2 separate regions of the Homo sapiens genome follow, and region 1 is linked to region 2. The links come from fine-mapping of genetic effects on gene expression. Tissue or cell type: visceral fat. Region 2 holds a variant in brackets; the other region holds the start of a gene. All regions are shown on one strand. Distances are between the middles of the regions.

Region 1 (11,340 bases), 27 kb after region 2:
ACAACCTTTGTTCAATGTATTCTAAAACCAGCTCTCAATAGCGGTAATGTTCTTGCAAAGTTTAAATACTTTTTTATAGTTTAAACAAACTTAGTGAGACTTAAAAATGAAATGAATTAATAAAAAATCATAATTTATCTTATTAAGAAGTATATATAACATTAAACTGAGGTTTGTTGGCTACATATTACCTGGTGAGAAAAGCCTAGCAAATTGAATCTAAGATTCAGAGAAATTGGGCTGGGCACGGTGGCTCACGCCTGTAATCCCAGGACTTTGGGAGGCTGAGGTGGACAGATCACCTGAGCTCAGGAGTTCAAGACCACCCTGGGCAACATGGTGAAACCCTGTATCTACTAAATACAAAAAAAATTAGCCAGGCATGGTGGTGCATGCCTGTAGTCCCAGCTACTTGGGAGGCTGAGGCTCGAGAATCACTTGAGCCCCTGAGGCGGAGGTCGCAATGAGCCGAGATCACACCACTGCACTCCAGCCTGGGCGGGCAGGTGACAGAGTAAGACTCTGCCTCAAAAAAAAAAAAAAAAAAAAAAAAAAAAAAAATTCAGAGAAATTGAAAAGCAAAGGAGTTATAAAGAGATGAATGTATGGGTATGGCTTCATGTAGCTCACATAACTGGATCGGGGAAATAGATGCATTTTAAAAGTACATAACTTTGAGAAACTTACCACATTCATGTTTGTTTCAGGATCCACAGCTGTCAGTTTCCCTCCAGACCCCTCAGAATGCAGGGTCCAGAGAACCAAACAGACCACCAACCCCAAGAACCGCATTTTCATTCTGTATAATAAAACAGTCTATTATTATTTGCTTGAATTTTACTACACAAAAATATTCTGGTAACTTAATGCTCCCACAAAAAGTTCTGAACCAGATTTAGGGCAAGTAAAAGGTGAAAGGAAAATATGAAACAAATGACTCCAGCCATATCTGAAAGGAGAATAAGGAATTTTTAAATTTTATTTATTTATTTTTATTTTATTTATTTATTTATTTATTTATTTATTTATTTATGTTGAGATGGAGTCTTGCTCTGTCACCCAGGCTGGAGTGCAGTGGTGCAATCTCAGCTCACTGCAACCTCTGCCTCCTGGTTCAAGCAATTCTTCTGCCTCAGCCTCCCAAGTAGCTGGGACAACAGGCACGCACCACCACGCCTGGCTAATTTTTGTATTTTTGTAGCGATGGGCTTTCACCATATTGGCTAGGCTGGTCTCGAACTCCTGGCTTCGTGATTCGCCCACCTCGGCCTCTCAAAGTGCTGGGATTACAGGCGTGAGCCACCGCGCCTGCCCAGGAATTTTTTTTTTTTTTCGGAGTCTCGCTCTGTTGCCCAGGCTGGAGTGCAGTGGCACAATCTCGGCTCACCACAACCTCCGCCTCCCAGGTTCAAGCGGTTCTCCTGCCTCAGCCTCCAGAGTAGCTGGGACTACAGGTGCAGGCCACCATGCCCGGCTAATTTTTGTATTTTTAGTAGAGACAGGGTTTCACTATATTGGCAAGGCTGGTCTCAGATGACTTCGTGACCTGCCCGCCTCCGCCTCCCAAAGGAATTATTATTATTATTATTTTATATTTATTTATTTATTTATTTATTTATTTATTTATTTATTTATTTATTTTGAGGCTGAGTCTCGCTCTGTCGCCCAGGCTGGAGTGCAGTGGCGCAATCTTGGCTCACTGCAAGCTCCGCCTCCCAGGTTCAGGCCATTCTCCTGCCTCAGACTCCCAGGTAGCTGGGACTACAGGCGCCCGCCACCACGCCCGGCAAATTTTTTTGTATTTTTTTTTTTTTAGTAGAGACGGGGTTTCACTGTGTTAGCCAGGATGGTCTCGATCTCCTAACCTCGTGATCACGCCTCGGCCTCCCAAAGTGCTGGGATGACAGGCGTGAGCCACCGCGCCCGGCCCAAAGGAATTACTTTTAACTAAGAAACCTCCCACCCACCACCTCCAGTTGATATATGACCTTTGGAGTCCAGCATACCCATTCACCTCCTAACCCCAAAGTTAAAAACAAATTGGTCATGGAGAAATAACAAAAGGCAAGACTTAGAAGAGGATAGTTTGAGAAAAAGAAAGAGACACAAAATTTCTGAGCTTGCTTATTTCCCACCTCTTGCCTTCCACCTATGATTTAGACATGTTTAAGTTCAGCCACTATTAGCTCTTCCTCCTACTTATCTAACCACTATTAGCTCTTCCTCCTACTTATCTAACCACTTCTGTTCTTGCCCCAAATTATACGTCAGCATTTAAATTTGTCATTCATGGGAAAAAAGTGAAATGAAAGAAAATAGAGCTTTCAAAAGAAACAGAAAGGAAAAATTTGACCCGTCTCTCTCCTTCTGAAATTCTCTAACCATCAAATCAACAAAGACCATCTTGGTTTCTGGCAGTGATGACTCAAAATCACAGCAAAGACCTTGAGGATGCTGAAGGCAAAGTTAAATGCCTCTCCTAAGATCACGCAAGTGGTCAGAGAAAAACCTAGGACTAGATCCCAGAACTTCTACATTTTTAAAAAATAAATAGAATCACTTAAAAAGATGCAGGCATGTATGCCCATACAAAGACTTGTACATAAATGTTTATAACAGCTTTGGGTGTAATAGACAAAAACTGGAAAAACCCAAATGCTTTAAATGGATGATTGGATAAATTATGGTATATACCTACTACTCAGCTATAAAAGGGAAGGAACACAAAAAAATATAGATTAATCTCAAAATAATTATGCCAAAAGAAGCCAGATCAAAATAAGGAAAAAAAAAAGTACTGTCTGATCCCATTCATATAAAACTCCACAAAATGCAGTCTAATCTATATTCACAGAAAGCAGATCAGTGGTTTCCTGGAGAGAAGGGGCAGTAAGAAAGGATCACAAAGGGGTATGCACAAATAATATTTTGGAGGTGATGTACAGGTTCATAATATTGAATGTACTGATGGTTTCACAGGTGTGTACACATGCAAAAACTTATACAATTGTACAATTGAAATATGCCATGCTATTGTATGTCAATAATACTCCAATACAGCTGTTTGTTTTTAGTTTTGTGTTTAAACTGAATATTCCACAAGTCTTAAGAAATTGATTCTCAGGAGATTGCAAAAGTGAACTGACTCCCTTCTGTTGATGGAATTCCTCCTGGGATTATTTTTTTCCAAGAAGTAGTGAACTCTGAAATTCTTTTCTTTTTTCTTTTTTCTTTTTCTTTTTCTTTTCTTTTCTTTCTTTTTTTTTTTTGAGACAGTCTTGCTCTGTCCCCCAGGCTGGAGTACAGTGGCGAGATCTTGGCTCACTGCAAGCTCCACCTCCTGGGTTCAGGCCATTCTCCCGCCTCAGCCTCCCAAGTAGCTGGGACTACAGGCGCCCACCACCACGCCTGGCTAATTTTGTTTTTGTATTTTTAGTAGAAACAGGGTTTCACCGTGTTAGCCAGGATGGTCTCGATCTCCTGACCTCGTGATCCGCCGGCCTCGGCCTCCAAAAGTGCTAGGATTACAGGCGTGAGCCACCGCGCCCGACCGTGAACTCTGAACAGGAGCAAACGTTATCCCCTTCAGTGTGCATTGGCAAAGCAAGGCCACTGCTTCTACTTACAACTTTGTACTTCTTCATGATAGGAAGGATTGTACAGCCCCAGGCTATTTTTTATCATAAATGCAACCTCCCAAAAGTCCATTATTACTAGAGAATAAGGAGTAAATTGAAAGGGAAAAAATTAAAGGAATTACCACAATTGAAAACAGAATAGCATCTGCAGGAGCTGCTTTCATTCAGCGGTTTTCCTACAGAACCTGTATCAACCGCCCAGAGGAAGGTCCATGAGAGTAACAGCTAAAGCTACTCAGCTGAAAATCTCACCCAGTTAAGTTTTCCTTCCAACACAACACTACATACTTAGTATGTTTTTCTCAACATACTAAGCCAAGCAATTCTTACTAAGAAGGAGATACTCTGAAAATCTCGAAGGAGGGGGGAAAAAAAACCTTCCAGGCTGAATTAAGTGTGCTTTTCTGGGCTGTATTAACACCTTTATCTCAGTTATTTAGACTTTGTAACAATCTGACTCAGCTTTGTACCCCCAGGACCAAGCAAAGTGCCACGTATATATTAGATGCATAGTACAGATTCTGAAAAAAGATAAGAGCAGTCCAACAGTTCAGTGGCAGAAGAAAAGGCCCCAACGCAGCATGCTATTTAACTTTCTAATAACAACAATTATTACGACTCCCATTTAAGCTCTTGCGAGGCGCCAGCCACCGCAGGCAGCGCTTCTGATCTACTGTCAATTACTCCTCCACCGACCCTATGGCAGTACCATTAATTCCATTTTTCAGGAATCTGAGGTTCACCCAGCTGAAGTACTGGAAGCAAAGTGTCAGCTGTTTAAAAAGCAGTATCGCTGGGACTTTAACCAGGATTGATGCCCAAGTCTGCTTTCGACCACGCCGTTGGCTAACAAGAGAGGTAGGATGGGATGCCTGGAGGAGCTAAGGGGAGAGCACGAGGATGCAGAGAGAGGAATCAGACATCCCTGCTGTCCTCGCGGTCCAGGAGCACTGGGCAGCTTCACTGACCGGAGACCGCGCCTGTCCAGGAAAGTGGACAGCGCCCAGGGAAGAGAGTGGGCTTCTCTCTGAAGTTGCTCTCTGAAGTTGCCCTGGTTGATTGGCAGATGCCTTGAGCCAACGCCCGCAGAAAAAGCACCCGCAGGCACCCCAGGCAAGACTCGCTGGGTCCAAACGCAGAGGGTCTTGCCGGCCGGCAGAGCCTCGGGGCGCGACCCTCCCCTTGCTGAAGGCACCAGCTTCCACGCCGCACCCGCACCTGGCAGCGCCGCGGCGCCGGCACTCTCACCTGGAGCTGTCCTGCCGGGCCGCTGTCTCGAGTCGCAGTGCCAGCTCTCAGGGGCCGGGGTGCGGATAGGGGACCTGCAGGGGGCCTGGTCTGCCTTGTCGGGAGGGCGGATGCCCACCACCCTCGGACTATTTGTTCAGCCAATCAGAGCAGCCAGCCACCGGGAAGTGCCTCGGAGACTCCGCCCCAGACCAGCGCTGCCGCTTGCCAGCCCCCCAGTTGACCCCATAGAGCATGCGCCGTAGGCGTTTCTAAGAGATGGAGCCCGTCCTCCGCCTCGCAGGCTGGCAGGTCCACAGCTCTACCAGCGCGTCGCCTACGCATGCTCTCTTAGCAAAGGCTGTTTTAGGCGGCCTTCTGCTCCGCCCCCGAAGCTCCTGCAGGGCTGGCACCTTCTGCGCCTGACAGAGAGCATGTGGGCTCTATAAATGAAAGTGAATCATGGGCTCCATTTAAAGCGCTTATCATTGTGCCTGATGCAAAGCAATCTTGCTGCTTTAAATTTTTTATTATTATTAAAGATTTGTTAAAAGAGGAAACAATATTCAATATGTACATATTATTTATTAATCATTTTCTAAAACAAAGATTTTATTGAGCACCTACTAAATGCCAGGCATTAGTAAGACAGTGGAGGTATAGAAACCAACCAAACAAGGTTCCTGTTCTCTTGTATATATTCTGATGGGAAGAGACACATCATGAATAACTATATAATACATGAGGTGGTGATAAGTGCTATAAATAACAACAAAAACAAACAAACAACAACAACAACAAACAACAAGGGGCTGGGCACAGTGGCTCACGCCTGTAATCCCAGCAGTTTGGGAAGCTGAGGAGGGCGGATCACCTGAGGACAGGAGTTCAGGACCAGCCTGGCCAACTTGGTGAAACCCCATCTCTACTAAAAATACAAAATTAGCGGGTGTGGTGGTGTGTGCCTCTAATCCCAGCTCCTTGGGAGGCTGAGGCAGGAAAATGGCTTGAACCAGGTAGGTGGAGGTTGCAGTGAGCGGAGATCATGCCACTGCACTCCAGCATGGACAACAGAGTGAGACTCCATCCCCCAAAAAAAAAAAAAAACAGGGATAAGGAGGATGATATGTATATGGTAATCAGGAAAGGACTCTTATGAAGTGACACCTGAGCACAGGCAAGGAGGTAGTTAACAGCCTTAGATACTGGAGAAAGCACATTCTGGGTGAAAATAGCAGGTACAAAGGCCCTGTGGTAGGAATATTCCTGGTGGGTCCTAGCCAGAGTGGTGAGGTCTTTGAGGCTAAAACAGAATGTACATAGTAGAAAGTAATAGAACATGAAGTCCTAGAAGTCTGGTGCCTTGGGAGCCACTTGTCAAGATCTTACCGTGTCTTCTGAGTAAGATGAGAAGCCAGTGTAATATTTTCAATAGAAGGGCAGCATAATCTAGTTTAGAAAGATCATTCTGAACTACAGAAGCAGGGAGACTAATTAGAAGGTGTATTAGTCTGTTCTCATGCTGCTAATAAAGACATACCCAAGACTGGGTAATTTATGAAGGAAAAAGGTTTAACTGACTCACAGTTTCACAGGACTGGGGAGGCCTCACAATCATGGCAGAAGGCAAAAGGCTTGTCTTACATGGCGGCACATGTGAGAGAAAGAACCAAGTAAAAGGATTTTCCTCTTATAAAACCATCAGACCTTGTGAGACTTATTTACCACCACAAGAACAGTATGGGCTAGACTGCCCCCATGATTCAGTTATCTCCCACCGGGTCCCTCCCACAACATGTGGGAATTACAGGAGCTATAATTCAAGATGAGATTTGGGTGGGGACACAGCCAAACCATATCATTCTGCCCTTGGCCACTCCCAAATCTCATGTCCTCACATTTCAAAACCAATCATGCCTTCCCAGTAGTCCCCCAAAGTCTTAACTCATTTCAGCATTAACTCAAAAGTCCATAGTCCAAAGTCTCACCTGAGACAAGGCAAGTCCCTTCCACCTATTAGCTGGTAAAATCAAAAGCAAGTTAGTTGCTTCTTAGATACAATGGGGGTACAGGCATTGGATAAATACACCTGTTTCAAATGGGAGAAACTGGCCAAAATGAAGGAGCTAAAAGCCGCATGCAAGTCCAGATCCATCAAGGCAGTCATTTCTTAAAGCTCCAAAATGATCTCCTTTGACTCCATGTCTCACATCCAGGTCACACTGATGCAGGAGGTGGGTTCCCATGGTCTTGGGCAGCTCTGCCCCTGTGGCTTTGCAGGGGGACCCTTCCTCCTGGCTCCTTTCACAGGCTGGTGTTGAGTGTCTGTAGCTTTCCCAGGTGCACAGTGCAAGCTATCGGTGGATCTACCATTCTGGGGTCTGGAGGACAGTGGCTCTCTTCTCACAGCTGCACTAGGCAGTGCCCCATTGGGGACTCTGTGTGAGGCCTCCAATCCCACATTTCCCTTCTGCACTGACCTAGCCCAGGCTCTCCTTGAGGGCCCCACCCCTGCAGCAAACTTCTGCCTGGACATTCAGGCTTTTCCACACATCCTCTGAAATACAGGTGGAGGTTCCCAAACCTCAATTCTTGACTTCTGTGCACCCACAGGCTCAACACCACATGGAAACTGCCAAGGCTTAGGGACTGTACCCTGTGAAGCCATGGCCTGAGCTGTACTTTAACCCCTTTTTGCCATGGCTAGAGTGACTGGGACACAGGCTGGGACACAAGTCCCTAGGCTGCACACAGCAGGGAGGACCTGAGCCAGCCCACAAAAGTATTTTTTCCTCCTAGGCCTCTGGGCCTGTGATGGGAGGGGCTGCCTCAAAGGTCTCTGACATGCCCTGTCAGACATTTTCCCCATTGTCTTGGTAATTAACATTTGGCTCCTCATTACTTATGCAAATTTCTGCAGCCAGCTTGAATTTCTGCTCAGAAAATGGGTTTTTCTTTTCTATCGTATTGTCAGACTGCAAATTTTCTGAACTTTTATGTTTTGTTTCCCTTTTAAAACTGAATTCTTTTAACAGCACCCAAGTCACCATTTCAATGTTTTACTGCTTAGAAATTTCTTCCCCCAGATACCCTAAAGCATCTCCCTCAAGTTCAAAGTTTCACAAATCTCTAGGGCAGGGACAAAATGCCCCCAGTATCTTTGCTAAAACATAGCAAGAGTCACCTTTACTACAGTTCACAACAAGTTTCTCATCTCCATCTGAGACCACCTCAGCCTGGATTTCATTGTCCATATCATTATCAGCATTTTGGTCAAAGCCATTCAACAGTTCTCTAAGAAGTTCCAAACTTTCCCACGTCTTCCTGACTTCTTCTGAGCCCTCCAAACTGTTCCAACCTCTGCCTGTTACCCAGTTCCAAAGCCACTTCCACATTTTTGGGTATCTTTACAATAGCACCCCATTCTACTGGTACCAATTTACTGTGTCAGTTCTTATGCTGCTAATAAAGACATACCCAAAACTAGGTAATTTGTAAAGGAAAGAGGTTTAATTGACTCACAGTTCCACGTGGCTAGGGAGGCCTCACAATCATGGCAGAAGGCAAAAGGCACGTCTTACATGGCAGCAGACATGAGAGGATATGAGAACCAAGTGAAAGGGGTTTCCCCTTATAAACCCATCAGATCTCATGAGACCTAGTCACTACCACAAGAAAGGTATGGGGAAAACTGCCCCCCATGATTTAATTATCTCCCACTGGGTCCCTCCCACAACATGTGGGCATTATGGGAACTACAATTCAAGATAATGATTTGGGTGGGGACACAGCCAAACCATATCAGAAGGCTACCACAATAGTCCAAGTGAGAGTTAATAATGACTTGGACCAGGATGGTGATAGCAGTGAAAGTGGAGAAAAATAGGCAGCTCTAGGTATGTTTATAAAGTTGAACCAATAGGACTTGCTGGTGGATTGAATACAGGTATGAGAGGGACAGTAGCATCAAGGATGGCACTAATGGAGTTGCCATGAATTTGAATGGACAAACTACCAGGAAGAACAACTTGAGAGGGAAATTAGGAGTTTGTTCTAGATGTGTTGGTTTTGAGATGCCTTTTAGAGACCTGTGTCAACTCAGGCCATGTCAGGAAATAGAAGCCACTCTAGGCATTGCAAACAGAGGACATGGTTACACAGGTAATGACATTGCTGAGAAGACAAACAGGGTTTGGGTGGCACCACAGAAATTATTAGCAACAGTGGAAAGAGCTGGGGCATTATTGGATGAAGGAAGTGTCATACCATAGACCAGAAGTTGAGCAACAGTCTCTGTCAGAGACACTACTCATGGCCAAGAAAGAGAGGAGCTAGAAATAGCTGGACCTCCCCTTCTTTCTTCCTTCTTCCTTCAGTCTTCCACAAGTCCCTTCTGAGGATCCTAGGCAGGCTAAAGGTGGCTGACACAAGAGCCTGCAGAGGTCAGACCACTCCACCCTCCACAAGACAGAGCAGAGCAGAGGTAGGACAGGGAAAGGATTTGGAACAAAAAGGAGAAGATTGGAAAAACATCCACATGGAGATGTTGAGTAGGGACTAGGATATATAGATGTATTCAAGCTCCAGGCTAGAGATATGATTTGTGACTAATCAGATTAGAAACAGTATTTAAAGACATGAGGCTGGAGGAGATCCCCTATAAAGTAAGCATAAGTAGCAAAGAACACACGTAGAGATTCAGAAGATATAAAAGCTGAGAAGACAATGAGGTTGGAGGAGAAATGAGTGTGTTGTACTTGACATGAACTGAAGAAAGAAATTTCATGAAAGAGGAAATGATCAGCCCAGGCAAGTGCCAATGACAGCTTAAGTGAAGTGAGTACTGAGAAACGAGCAACAGATTGAGCAGCATTTCTGTGTGTCAGACATTGGGCAATATAGTTACCCTTTCTAAGCCTCAGCGTCTTCACTTGTAAAATGGGTGTATGAAGGTAGTCTTGAGGATTAAGTGAGACACTGTATGTAGAGGGCTTAGCACAATTTCACAAAAGTAAAAAGTGATGTAGCCCAAAATGCAACCCAGGCAAACTAAATCCAGGTTGTCATCCGTGAGTGAATGAATGAAAATATAACCACGAGGTTCCTTCACTCAGGTAGGGGAAGATTTCTCCTACTTCCTGCTTTGGGCCATTGTGAGCCACAGTGACTGGTGGATGACCTATACCTTTTCCAAGTTAAACTTAATAAAGAGAGAAAAGGAGACTCTACATAAGAAAATGATATTTATTCAGGTTTGCAATGTGAATAAGTGTGCCATATTATACTATGTGCATATTTAAAGAAGTTAAGACAAGGGGAAGTTTTTAAAGGCAAAATGAGAAAGAATAAATAAGTTGTTTTGAATCAATTGTCCTTGGCTACGAGGATCAATAACAAGGGTGGCATTGGTCCAAGGACTGACAGTTGCTGAATAGACATCCTTGCAGAAGTATTTTCTGTGCAAGACTGCATTTTTGGCAGTCTTTTGTGATAGTTCTGAATTTCAGGCATATGTGTGAGAATACTCCCTTTATGGCCTTCCATGGGTCCATTTGCCAGGACTTTAATATAAAGGACTTCATTTTGATTTTGACAACTTTCACAACTATAAAAAGAAAGTTTTATAGAAAACAGGAGGTAGTAGTGGTGTGTGTGTGTGTGTGCATATATGAACATGTGTGTTTGGGATGGTCACTTTATATCATAAGCCAGACTGGTGAAATAAAGACAGAAACAATACTAATAGCAGTTCTGCTTCCAGCAAAGATAGAGTAACAATGACCTGGTTTACTCTCCTACTTTAAACAGCTAAGTTGGAAAAAGTATGAAACGATAATTTCAGACATTGGACAACAAATAGTGCAAAAGAAAGAGCAATCCTTGAGAAAAGAAAAACAAATGAAATGATCCCTGCAATGCCTCAGATAATTGCCTGGACAGATTTTCCAGGCTGTAGTTTAGGGAGGCCAAATCCAAGCAAAATCCAGCAGTTTATCTAAATAGAGGAGAAAAATGAGAATTAAAAAAGCATTCTCATCTGGCAGTAGGAATTCTCTTAAGGCAGCAGAGTTGCAGGGCAGAATGCTGGAGCAGAGAGAGCTGAAGAGAGAGAGAGGCTGTGGCGAGCTGCAGATGGGTTCCTTCAAGTCTTTAACTAACAGTTTGCATGTGAAGAAACTATGCTAGACCATAGTTTAGTGGAAAGAACCACCTGCAAACGGTAAGATCCCCAAGGCTCACACAAAACTTGGAATGGTTTAAGTTACAACCAGCCAGAGTGGGAAAACATTGTAACACAGAAGGCACTCAATAAAAGATTCATAAGACTATTGTCTCAGTATTGGAGCAAGATCAGCCCTAAGTTAAGGCTGCCTTTTAAAAATAAGAATACTGAATAAGAATAAGAATACTGAATACTGGGAAGTAGACCCCCAATTGATTTTTACCAAGGTTCCATGACAATTCAATGGGGAAA
Region 2 (11,340 bases):
AGTACCTGGGCTCTGGGCAGGGCCAGTGAGAAAGTGAGAAGTAATATCAAGTCTTGGCTCTGGGGAGCTCCGAAATTCATCAGGTTTATAAGGAGAATGGAAAGATGAGTATGCTATATTTAAAATCCCGCTAAAGAACAAGGTATGGAATTTATTAACAAGTTAATCCTAATTATTTAAACAAAAAGTAAACTTCTGAATGGACTGTAAACAAAATGGCCTTTAAGGTCAACCCCAAACTCATACCATAAGAGCCCTCTAATGCCACACCTGAATTCTAGCCCCAGCCTGCCCGGCATCCAGGCCTGCCCAGCTTCCACAGAAGCCTTTTCCTGCACTGCCTCTTGGAGCCTGCAGCCTGCACCAGTGGCAGCCCCTGGCCAACAGCCCAGAGGAGGGAAAGCCAAAGGGAAGATCCGATACAATGGCTGCACAAAGCAACCAACCATTTTACTGACAAAAGATGGTACAGCGGGTAGAAGAGCAAAGGCCCAGGCTGCCTTGTACAGCAAATCTGGGCTTTGCAAATATTCTGGAGGTATATTCCAGGGTAGTTAGAATCTAAAGTCACCAGGTCACAAATGGGGCACAGAGCAGTGCTCTGGCCCTCACCCTGCAGCCTTTGACCCTGGCAAGCTGCTGGATAAGAGGGCTGGAACAAGACCAGTAGCCTAGATGATAGCCGATCCAATGTCTCTACTGCAAACCCCATGCCCAGTGGAGGCCCAAGACACAGAAGGGTGAAGCAACACAGGTCTGTAATATAAAATAGAGTTGGCCTAGGACAGCCTTGGTTTCAACATTCCCAAGGGCCTCTGACATCCCAGGTCTGGTGGCCATTTGTACTTTGCTGAGGCCTGGCGTGTACTGTGTGTGGGCTGCTGGCAGTCACTAAGCTGGTGGGAAAGCTCAGGATCTGCCTCCAGCCAGCTCAGTCACCCTCCATCATCTCTGGGGGTGCAATAACTGATGAGGTGACAGACATTGGGCCTTTTAGGAAAATGTCCATTAGGTAAGAGGTCCTAGGCATCCTCAAAAATGTAGGGGAATTCTAGTGACAGGGTATATGAAGAAAACAAGTGACTATAAGCATAAATGTGACCAAGGAGAAAAGCAGAGACCTGAACCAAGAACGAAAATCCTCAATCTTTGTGAATTTGAGGATTTTTGAAGGTTTGGGGGCATTCCTTAAGTGGTAAGCATGTGCTGTTCAGCACGTCATGAACTATTTGCATTCCAGATGCCCCTCTTTTAGGCCACAACAAACTCTGCCCCTGAGGAACTGACATTTAACTCTCAGCCTTCTAGTTACTATAAAGGACCAGGAGCCTCAGGCCAGGCTCTTCCTAGTTCCTTAGAGACGAGCCCCAGGGAAAGGAGAACTATAGCACTGTTAGAGTTCCTGGGGCAACTGAAGAAGGAGATGAAAGTATCAGGATGTCCCGAACAGGTCTGCTCCCAAACCTGGTGGAGCAAAAGAATCTACCAGGCAGATTTTTTAAAAATGCAGATCCTCAGAAATAAAAAGGAATGAACTACTGACATACACAACATAGGAAAATTTCAAAACAAGTATTCTGAGTGGAAGAAGCCAGACAAAAACAAGTATAAACTGCATGACTGTTCTCATGCAAGCTCTAGAAAATGCAAACTAAGCTACAATGACAGGAAGCAGATCAGTGGGATTGAGGGGAGGGATGGGGGGAGGTATCACAAAGGGGCAGCAGGGACCTTTTAGGATGATGATATATTTGCTGTGTCGATTATGGTGATGGTTTCACAGGTGTATACAAACACTGAAATATATCAAATTGTATACTTTAAATATTCTATGTCACTTATACCTCAATAAAAAATTTTTTTTTAAAATAATAAAACGACTCGGGAGGCTGAGGCAGGAGAATCACATGAAGCTGGGAGGCGGAGGTTGCAGTGAGCCAAGATCGCACCACTACACTCCAGCCTGGCAACAGAGTGAGAGTCCATCTCAAAAAAATAAAATAAAACGAAAAAATAAAAGTACAGATTCTCTAGTCCAAATGATTGGGACACAGGAGTATTTGTTTTATAAGCCTGGATGGTAGCCAATCCAAGAATTCCACTATAATTCCAACTCTCATTACTTTTTTAATGCAATGATTTATTAAATAGTGTACTTTTTAAAGCAATTTGGTGATTCTGATGCAAGCAGTGACTGCCAGGTGTTTGGAAATTACTATTCAAGACACCTACAGTGTCTTGGTTTAGGGCTTAAATGGTGAGTTGTTTCATATTAAAAATGAAGTTAGCTGAAAAATAAATGGCACAAAATTATGTCCTGAGGTAGAAAGAAGTCCCTGACATATTGTCAGGTGAAAAAAGAAAAGCAAGCTGTAAAACAGTAAGCAGGAGAAAAATCAATCTATTTCTACATCTACTATTTCTATCCATGTCTTTAACAGCATCTTTTTGAAAAGAGGTATAGAATAGAATGCAGAGACATTCAATATCTATGGATATGCATTTCCTCTCTGTCTAGGGTTATAGAATGATTTTATTTTCATTTTAAGATAATTTTTTTCTAGATGTAGTTTCTAAATTTTCTAGAATGAACATGACTTATTTACATGATAAAATAATCAAAACTGTATTTCAAAAGTCAGGGGCCCCCATTCACATCTATCATTGGTTTAGCTCCAGTTTATTCACTGCTATTCCAAGCATATTGTGATCAGGGGTTAGTGTTGAAACAGCGGTTTCTATCTCCAAAACGGACTTAAAATCACTCTTTATGAAGCAACACAGAAATAAAAAAAATCTAGGACTCAATGAGAAGCAGATGGAGGGGAGGAAACAGGAGGAGGAAAAGAAAGCTGGGGGAGAAGGAAAGGGAGAGAATATATTAACCTGAGACTTGAGGAAGGGAGAGGAGGGAAAAGAAAAATGTCAACCCCAGTAGCTGTTTGTGAACCCACGTATAACACAGTGTGCCCCACCACAGGTATCAAAAGCAACACAAGCACGATGACAAAAACCCAGGACTCTGGGGAAGAAAACCAGATCAGATTTGTAAGCAGGTTGTCTTTCTATTTGGAAAGGGTTTGCATGCCCAGACCTTTCTGATGTTGATTTTACATGAACCCCAAATGCACTCCTGGAATGCCTACCTGGCTCCAGTGTAACATGTTTTGCACAGAAGTTCCAGCAGGAGAATGTGTTGTATATACATCCACTCTAGACTGCAAAATAAATACATTGAAATGAAGAATGAAAACAGCATTAAGGTGGCATTGATAATAAACATTGTATTTTGCCCTTCAAAGCACTAAAAACTAGAGCCATAATCTCAAGTATGTGAGATGAGAGGTAGAAAAAAATTATTTGACTAAAAATCTGCCCTATAAAAATACATACAACCACATACAAAGTCCATATGAAGGAGGTGCAACAACATGGTAAGCACGGGACTGTGTGGGTTTCGTTTACAGGGCATTTTCATTTTGTTCTTCATGCTTTCCTGAATTTCCCAAATTTCATATAACAATCACACCTTGCTTTAATTATCAGACAAAAGAAAAATGGCACTGAAATTCCTTAGGGCCTTTATTCCAGGATTTTAACCCTTTTTTTCAAAATGCCACATGACAAACTAACAAACATATTTAGAAACACGGGCATAGTATTGGCCAAGGGTTTATATTTTATAAAATAAAATGGGTTTACATTTTATAAAATGTACTTTTATAAATACACACACACTGCAAGCATACACTTATGTGTATGTAAATGGCCGTTCCAAATTTAAATACTTATAGTAATTTTTGAAAATTTGTGTATTTTAGATTCGGGGGGTCCATGTGCAGGTTTGTTACAAGGGTGGATTGCATGATGCTGAGATGCGGGCTTCTATTGATCCCATAACCACAGTACTCAATATTGGCTATAGTACTCAACAGGCTTCAGCCCTTGTCCCTCTCCCTCCTTCCTTTTGGAGTCCCCACTGTCTATTGTTCCCATCTTTATGTTTATACTTATAATGATTTCTAAAAGAAACAAATCACTAGAGTAATTATAAATATTACAGCTTAATTTGTGACAGATCTCCTCATTCAATAATCTCCATCTAGGTACAACATAAGAAGGTGACCACAGTCAGCCTGAGGATGGCAGCAGGTGGTACCGTATTCTAGGCATTGGCCAAAGTTCATGCTTGTGCCTCTCAAATGAAAGACTCTTTAGAGTTCTGATGAGGTCATTCCCACCTCTCCCATATCATTCAACACAAATAAGCACATTCACAGATAAAAAAAAAAATCAAATCTTACTATAAACATGCATACCATATTTAAATTTCTCTCATTAAATCCACACAGAAGAAAACAGAGATTTCCACAGAGCTCCTTCAGTATGACATGAGTGCAAACGTGGGTACCCAGCCACTTCAAAAACGCACTCTGGGGAAGAAATTCTTTGTCTCCAAATAAGTCCTACAAAATAAAAAGAAACCCAAGAACATCTCAGCATTTCACTCTGGTGCATAAGTCTCCGTGACTCACCTCAGAAGCAGAGACAAGTACCCAATGTCTCCACGAATGGCCTCAGGAGAGAATGGCAACCAGTGGACATCAAATCAGGATGCTTTTGCACAAGTTTACCAAAGCAAAAATCACACACTACAGAGGTGTATTTAAATTCTCCAAATGAAGAGAAGGAGGCAGAAAATCAAATAAGTTTTCAGCGGACTTCTACAGTGGGAAAGGGCCTTAATGATCACCCCTCCCAGGGCCATCCCCAAGTAATTTTCATCTGACTCTGATGGATCGGTGGTTACTTCTAAGAAACAGTCAAGGCTGTGATTGATCAGTAATGTCTGCCAGAGGTGTGCCCATCTAATTCAATGCTACTGGCCAGCAGGCCAAATCCAGCCCATC[G/A]CTTGCTTTTTTATTTTGTTTTTTAAAATTTTTTTTATTGGCCAGGCATGGTAGCTCATGCCTGTAATCCCAGCACTTTGAGAGGCCAAGGCAGAAGGACTGCCTAAGCCTAGGAGATTCCATCTTTCCTATTTAAGTCTTCTAAATGGCCCATGAGAGACGTTATACCTCATTTCATGTATATATTTCTATACAGGATTTCATATGTGTGTGTGTGAACATATATTTCATAAAAGACATATAATGCATGCATAATAGAACATCTGGTCTTACCTAGCTTAAAACTCTTTTTCATGAAATCTATTTCCTCCCTGAACAGAGGTTCGGGTGCCACAGCTTTAGGGCAGAGCCCTGATGAAGCTACTGGCTGTGTTTAGGAGCCATATTATAAAATACAATAATGATAGCGTTGTTAGGTCACCCTCAGTGTAGCTAGGGATGGGCTTTTGGGAACATTTCCTATCTCCCATCTCCTACATCCTCTGTGCACAGGCTCACCTCATGGGATAAAGGGCAACTCCACAAATGCTTAAATTATTTTCTCCCAGACTCTCCTTGCTCTCCCTGTGAGGTGGGCAGAGCTGTACTGACACATGCTAACCATGAGTACACGTGGCACCAGTGTGCAGGAAACGACAGGCGTCCCCGGCCACCCCTGGGTCTGGAAGGAGGGGTAAACGGAAAAAGAAAAGCCCACTGCTCCACTGATATCAAAACGCAGGGGAGGAAGGCACAGATTATCCCTCCCCTTGCCATTTCTTCAGATCTCAGGAGGAAATCTGCGGGGAGAGGAGAGGGATGGGAGGGGTCCAAGTACCTTAATGAGATGATCTGGTAATCGTCCTAATTTGGCCATAGGGCTAGTACAGAAGGCGACGGAAGCCACAGGACCCAGGGCAAAAAACATTTTAATCCTTTTAGCCAGCTCAGGGATCTGTGAAAATGCTATAAAACCTGTGAGAACAAAGGACAGAAAACAGGAATTCCATCATCTGGGATTTCCTTCTCAGAAAACACAAAGGCCGTCACTCGCGACGCCCTCTCGCGGAGGCCTGAGACCCACGCAAACAATACCACCAGCAGGAGCCAAAACACTTGACATGGGGCACTCTGAACTTCCGTGTGCCCTAACACTGAATTTGGTTAAACTAGTAAATCAAGCATTTGTTAATGCTTGCTCCAAATCTCAACCTAGATAAGCACTGGAAGAAATCCAGTCTGGGAGAATCAGAAAATCTTCCCAGTTCCTTTTACAATGTAAATAACAGACTATTTCCAAGAGCCTCACCCCATCACCTTTATCTCCCCCATGCCCCTCCCCCAAAGAACAATTTACAGACACCACGTTGAAATAAACCACCAATGATTTCAAAGGAACTCACACATTTAGAATCCCCTAGCTTTAAAATATATTTTAACCCTTGATATGGTTTGGGTGTGTTCCCACCCAAATCTCATCTTTAATTGTAGTTCCCATAATTCCCATGTGTTGTGGGAGGGACCTGGTGGGAGATAATTGAATCACGGAGGCGGTTCCCCCCATACTGTTCTTGTGGTAGTGAGTAAGTCTCTTGAGATTTGATGGTTTTATAAGGGGAAACTCCCTCACTTGGCTCTCACTCTCTCTTGTCTGCCACCATGTAAGATGTTCCTTGCTCTTCCGTCATTATTGTAAGGCCTCCCTAGCTCACAATCCATTAAACTGTGAGTCCATTAAACCTCTTTTTCTTTATAAATTGCCCAGTCTCGGGTATGTCTTTAGTAGTGGCATGAAAACGAATTAATACAACCCTCTCTGACGTCTTGCCACCTGGCCCCAGAATGTCACTTTAGGAAGCAGTGGGGCAAAGGTCCCAAGCAGGCAAGTCATGAAAGAAGAAATATAAATAAAGAAAAATGCCTAACTCCATTTTTTTCCTGGCAATATAACCACATGTTTTGAGACCCTTCAAAACATTCATACCTTTCATATAGTAAGGCTCCTTCTAGGAATATATTGTAAGGAAAGCATGTGATGGGAACACTAAGGTGTTAGTCATAGTAAACATTAAAAGGGAGAATTAAATAAATTATAGGACAGGTTCCTAGTCCCTAATTACAAAAACTCTTGCTGACTAGAATTATGGGCAATTTTTATTTTCTTTAATTTTGCTAAATCTTCTGTTCTTCTGTTTTTCTACAGTGAACATGCATTACTTATATAATCAGCATAAATTAAAATGCATATAACTTTTCAAAATTTTTTGTAAACCAAATGTACCTGTAGTTAGTTATATTCCACTTAACTTCAGAAGGCAGTATATTTTCTTGTTTTCTTTATGTAAGTCTCTGAACTTAGAAACTACTTGTTTTCTACTCTCTCACATCCCTATCTTGCTTCATCTAGGAAAACATGTAATATATTGTGGCTTACATTAATTTCTTCAATTTCAACCATATACATGAATTTTCATAGAAGACTAAATGTTACCAACATTCCTTATCTTATTCATTATTTCTGTTTGGCATTTAAAAATAAATGGAATTTGAACTAACATCTTTTTATATTTCACTTTTAAGAAAAGTACAAACTCTGTAATGAAGAATTTATATCAACTTCTGATCTTATTTACATACATACCTATAGTGGTGCCTTGAGAATGACCCACATAATACACTTGTTCTTGGCCAGTTTTATTCAGAATGAAGTTAATGGAAGCTGGTAGGTCATATTTTGCCATCTCATCATAACTGTAATCCAAGAAAGGAACTCTTTCATTGAAATAGTACATAAAATAGAGCACACACATACTGAGTATGCAGTTTGATGAGTTATCACAAACTAAACACAGCTGGGAAAACCAGCAGTGAGTCCAGGAAACAACACCAGCAGGACTGCAGAAGCCCCCTTGGGCTCTCTTCCAGTTGTGTCTCCCAAAAGTAACTATTGTCCTCATTTTTCACACCAGAAATTAGTTTCGCCTGTTTTTAAATATTTCTGTAAGTAGAATTATACAATGTGTATTCTCCTGTATCTGGCTTAATCCATTTTTTGCTGCATATAATTGTAAGTTGTTCATTCTTATTCTACTATATAAATATACAACACTTTATCCATTCACTGCTGACATGCATTTGGGTAGTTTCCTGTTTTCCGTTGTTACAAATAGCGTGACAATAAACCAATTCTTGTATATGCCTTTTGTTAAAAGCTCTCATTCTTGTGTTTCATGTCCTTAGAGGTGCCTCTGGTTTTAAAAATGGGAAGCAAGCCCGGAGGCTGCTATAGTGCTGCTGACTTTCTCTAATACCTGGTACCAAAACATAGACCAAAACCCAAGTGTGCGTATGGGTATATGCATGCGCATGTTGCCACTGGCAGGAGAAGAGCCAACCCCTAGCCAGTTCATACAAGGTGCCAGGTTCTGTGGAGGTTCCTTCTCTGCACCCTCTCCTTTAAGCCCCCAGTGACCTTATGAGGTAGGTGTTTATTACGCTCCATTTTACAAATAAGGAAACCGAGACACAGGAGGCTTATGTAAGATGTCCAATGTCATACAGCAATTAACTGGTGGAGCCAGAAGGAAGAGGGAGGAAAGGATAATTTCTGGAAAGAAGAAAAGTGAACATCTGGATTACATATTTATGGAGAAAGGAGGAAAGTTATGGAATAACGTTTACCCAGCAGCACCCACACCACCAGAAATGCCGAAGTAACTTAAGAATTCCTAACTAAATGTAAATCTTAATGTAATCATTTACTTATAATTTACCTTACTGCTAGTCATTAAATTCCTAGCAACATTTAAAACCTTTCAAAAGACACTAACTTCCCCTCTCATACAACTTCAGAGTTACCACCTATCTACCTCTTCTGCTGGAAGCCTGTTGTCTGCTTTAAGAGTACTAAGGAAATACATCCATGCCATTATCAATTCATATATACCTGAAAGCCCAGAATTCATCCTGAGAAACTGAGAGTGTCTTATGTTTCCGAGACCAGGTATTTCCTCTGCTGTTGCCCATCCACACGTCAAAACCAGCATCAGCAAGAATGAAGCCCAGGCTGCTGTTGGCAAGGTTTGTGACCCAGTTACTAGAATCTGCCAGCAAGCCATGTTGCAGGAAGACAACTGGTTTGGGACCTGAAAAACATTCATTGTTTAGGAGGCAGTAGCACCAAGCTTCAAAACAAATATGATATCTTGCTAAATAGAACATTCGTAAAAGATCCATAAGCAAATAATGAACTAGAAATAAATTGAAAGATTGACATAGTGATGTACTCACATATAATGTTAGTAAAGAATTTTTTTAAAACAGCACTGGCAAGGTAGCAGTGAAACTGGACCATTTTTTGCATGTCCACTAACAAGACACACTTATGTAAGCAGCAAAAACAAAAATCAATATATTTTTAAGAAATTATAAAATGTTTTTACAATTTTTTTCTTATAAAATGTTTTTACAATTTGCTTTCGTAATTGCATTTCTCACAATAATTCCTAACAAAATAAACAAAAGGAAAGAAAAAGATCACACATAATGAGACATCACTATACACGTATCAGAATGAGCAACATCCAAAAACGCTGAAAACACCAACTGCTGAAGAGGATGTGGAGGAACAGGAACTCTCATTCATTGCTGGTGGAAATGCAAACTGGTAGCACCACACTGGAAAAGTTTGGCAGTTTCTTACAAAACTAAACATACTCTTACCATATAATCCAGCAATCACATTCCTTGGTATTTTACCCAAAGGAGTTGAAAACTTACATCTACACAAAAACCTGCATACAGATGTCTATAGTAGTTTTACTCATAATTGCCAAAATTTAGAAGCAACCAAGATGTGCTCCAGTAAATGAATGCATAACTAAACTGTGCTACATCCAGACAATGGAGTATTACTCAGCCCTAAAAGGAAATGAGCTATCAAGCCACAAAAAGATGTAGAGGAACCTTAAATACATATTACCAAGATCTGTAAAGGCTGCATTCTATATGACATGCTGGAAAAGACAAAACTATAGAGAGAGTAAAAAAGATCCTGGTTGCCAGGGGTTAGGAGGGAGGAAGGAATTCATAGACAGAGTAAAGAGGATTTTTCAGGGCAGTAAGACTACTCTGCATGATACTATAGAGGTAGACACATGCCATCATACATTTGTCCAAAACTATAGAATATACAACATCAAGAGTGAACTGTAGTGGCCGGGTGTGGTGGTTCATGCCTGCAATCCCAGCACTTTGGGAGGCTGAGGCGAGTGGATCACTTGAGGTCAGTAGTTCGAGACTAGCCTGGCCAACATGGCGAAACCCTGTCTCTACTAAAAATACAAAAAAGGTAGCTGGGTGTGGTGCCCCACACCTGTAATCCCAGCTATTCAGGAAGCTGAGGCAGGAGAATTGCTTGAACCCGGGAGGCAGAGGTTGCAGTGAGCCAAGATTGCACTGCTGCACTCCAGCCTAGGGGACAGAGGGAGACTCAGTCTCAAAAAAAAAAAAAAAAGGGAACCCTAATGTAAACTACGGACTTTGTGTGAATGTAGGTTCATCAGCTGTAACAATTACAATTCCACTCTGTGAGGGATGTTCATAACAGGGGAGTGTGGGGGCAGAGGGTGTATGGGAAATCTCTGTACCTTCCACTCAATTTTGCTATGAACTTAAAACTGCTTTAAAAAATAAAATTTAATAAAAATTTTTAAAGCTGAATAAAAGTTAAATAGATAAAAAGGCTCACACACACAAATTCATAAATATATGTGTCTGTGTCTGCCTGTGAGAATTTATTTTCTACTCACCTGTACCCGAGACAGTGATATAGCAGAAAAAACAAAGATGTGGGAGCCAAAGAAACCTGACCTCAAGCTGCTTACCTAACGCTGAGACCATTCAGTTATTCATGAAACAAGCCTTTATTGAGTACCAACTATGTGCCAGGCCTTCTTCTCAGCACTGAGAACACAGCAGAGAACAAAAACAAGAGGAAAAAAAGTACCTCCATGGAGCTGACATTATACTGACCATGAGTTTTATCCACTTATTTGATTGATTGATTGATTGAGATAGGATGTTGCTCTGTGACCCAGGATGGAGTGCAGTGGCGTGATCTCTGCTCACAGCAACCTCCACCTTCTGGGCTCAAGTGATCCTTCCATCTCAACCTCCTGAGTAGTTGGGATTTCAGGCGTGCACCAACACACCCAGCTAATTTTTGTGTTTTTTGTAGAGACAGTGTTTCACCATGTTCCCAGGCTGGTCTCAAACTCCTGGACTCAAGCGATCCACCCACCTCGGCTTCCCAAAGTGCGGGGTTTACAGGTGTGAGCCACCACGCCCAGCCCGATCATGAGTTTTAGACAGCTCAAACAAACCTAGGCTCAACTCTGTCCTCTCCAAGTTCTAACATGACACCTTGGGGAAACATCTCCTAAAATTAATA

What was found. PIP is the estimated chance that this variant, and not a neighbour inherited with it, causes the effect. A credible set is the group of variants that fine-mapping cannot tell apart.
Region 1: LIPA starts here. The variant in region 2 is the best candidate, but not a certain one, in a credible set for the expression of LIPA in visceral fat (GTEx, PIP 0.55).

What each region holds. Positions count from the first base shown.
Region 1 is chr10:89,246,851-89,258,190 of GRCh38, forward strand. It overlaps LIPA (lipase A, lysosomal acid type), which reads right to left and starts at 4,925. Exons shown (of 10, transcript NM_000235.4): 1 at 4,887-4,925; 2 at 688-799. The coding sequence starts at 798. RefSeq lists enhancers at 2,194-2,283, 4,952-5,011.
Region 2 is chr10:89,219,365-89,230,704 of GRCh38, forward strand. It overlaps LIPA (lipase A, lysosomal acid type), which reads right to left. Exons shown (of 10, transcript NM_000235.4): 4 at 8,836-9,034; 5 at 7,531-7,640; 6 at 5,728-5,864; 7 at 4,320-4,466; 8 at 3,147-3,218. Among named protein-coding and RNA genes, the nearest start is that of CH25H, 18 kb to the left of the region's middle. The variant G/A (reference allele first, on the strand shown) is at 4,911.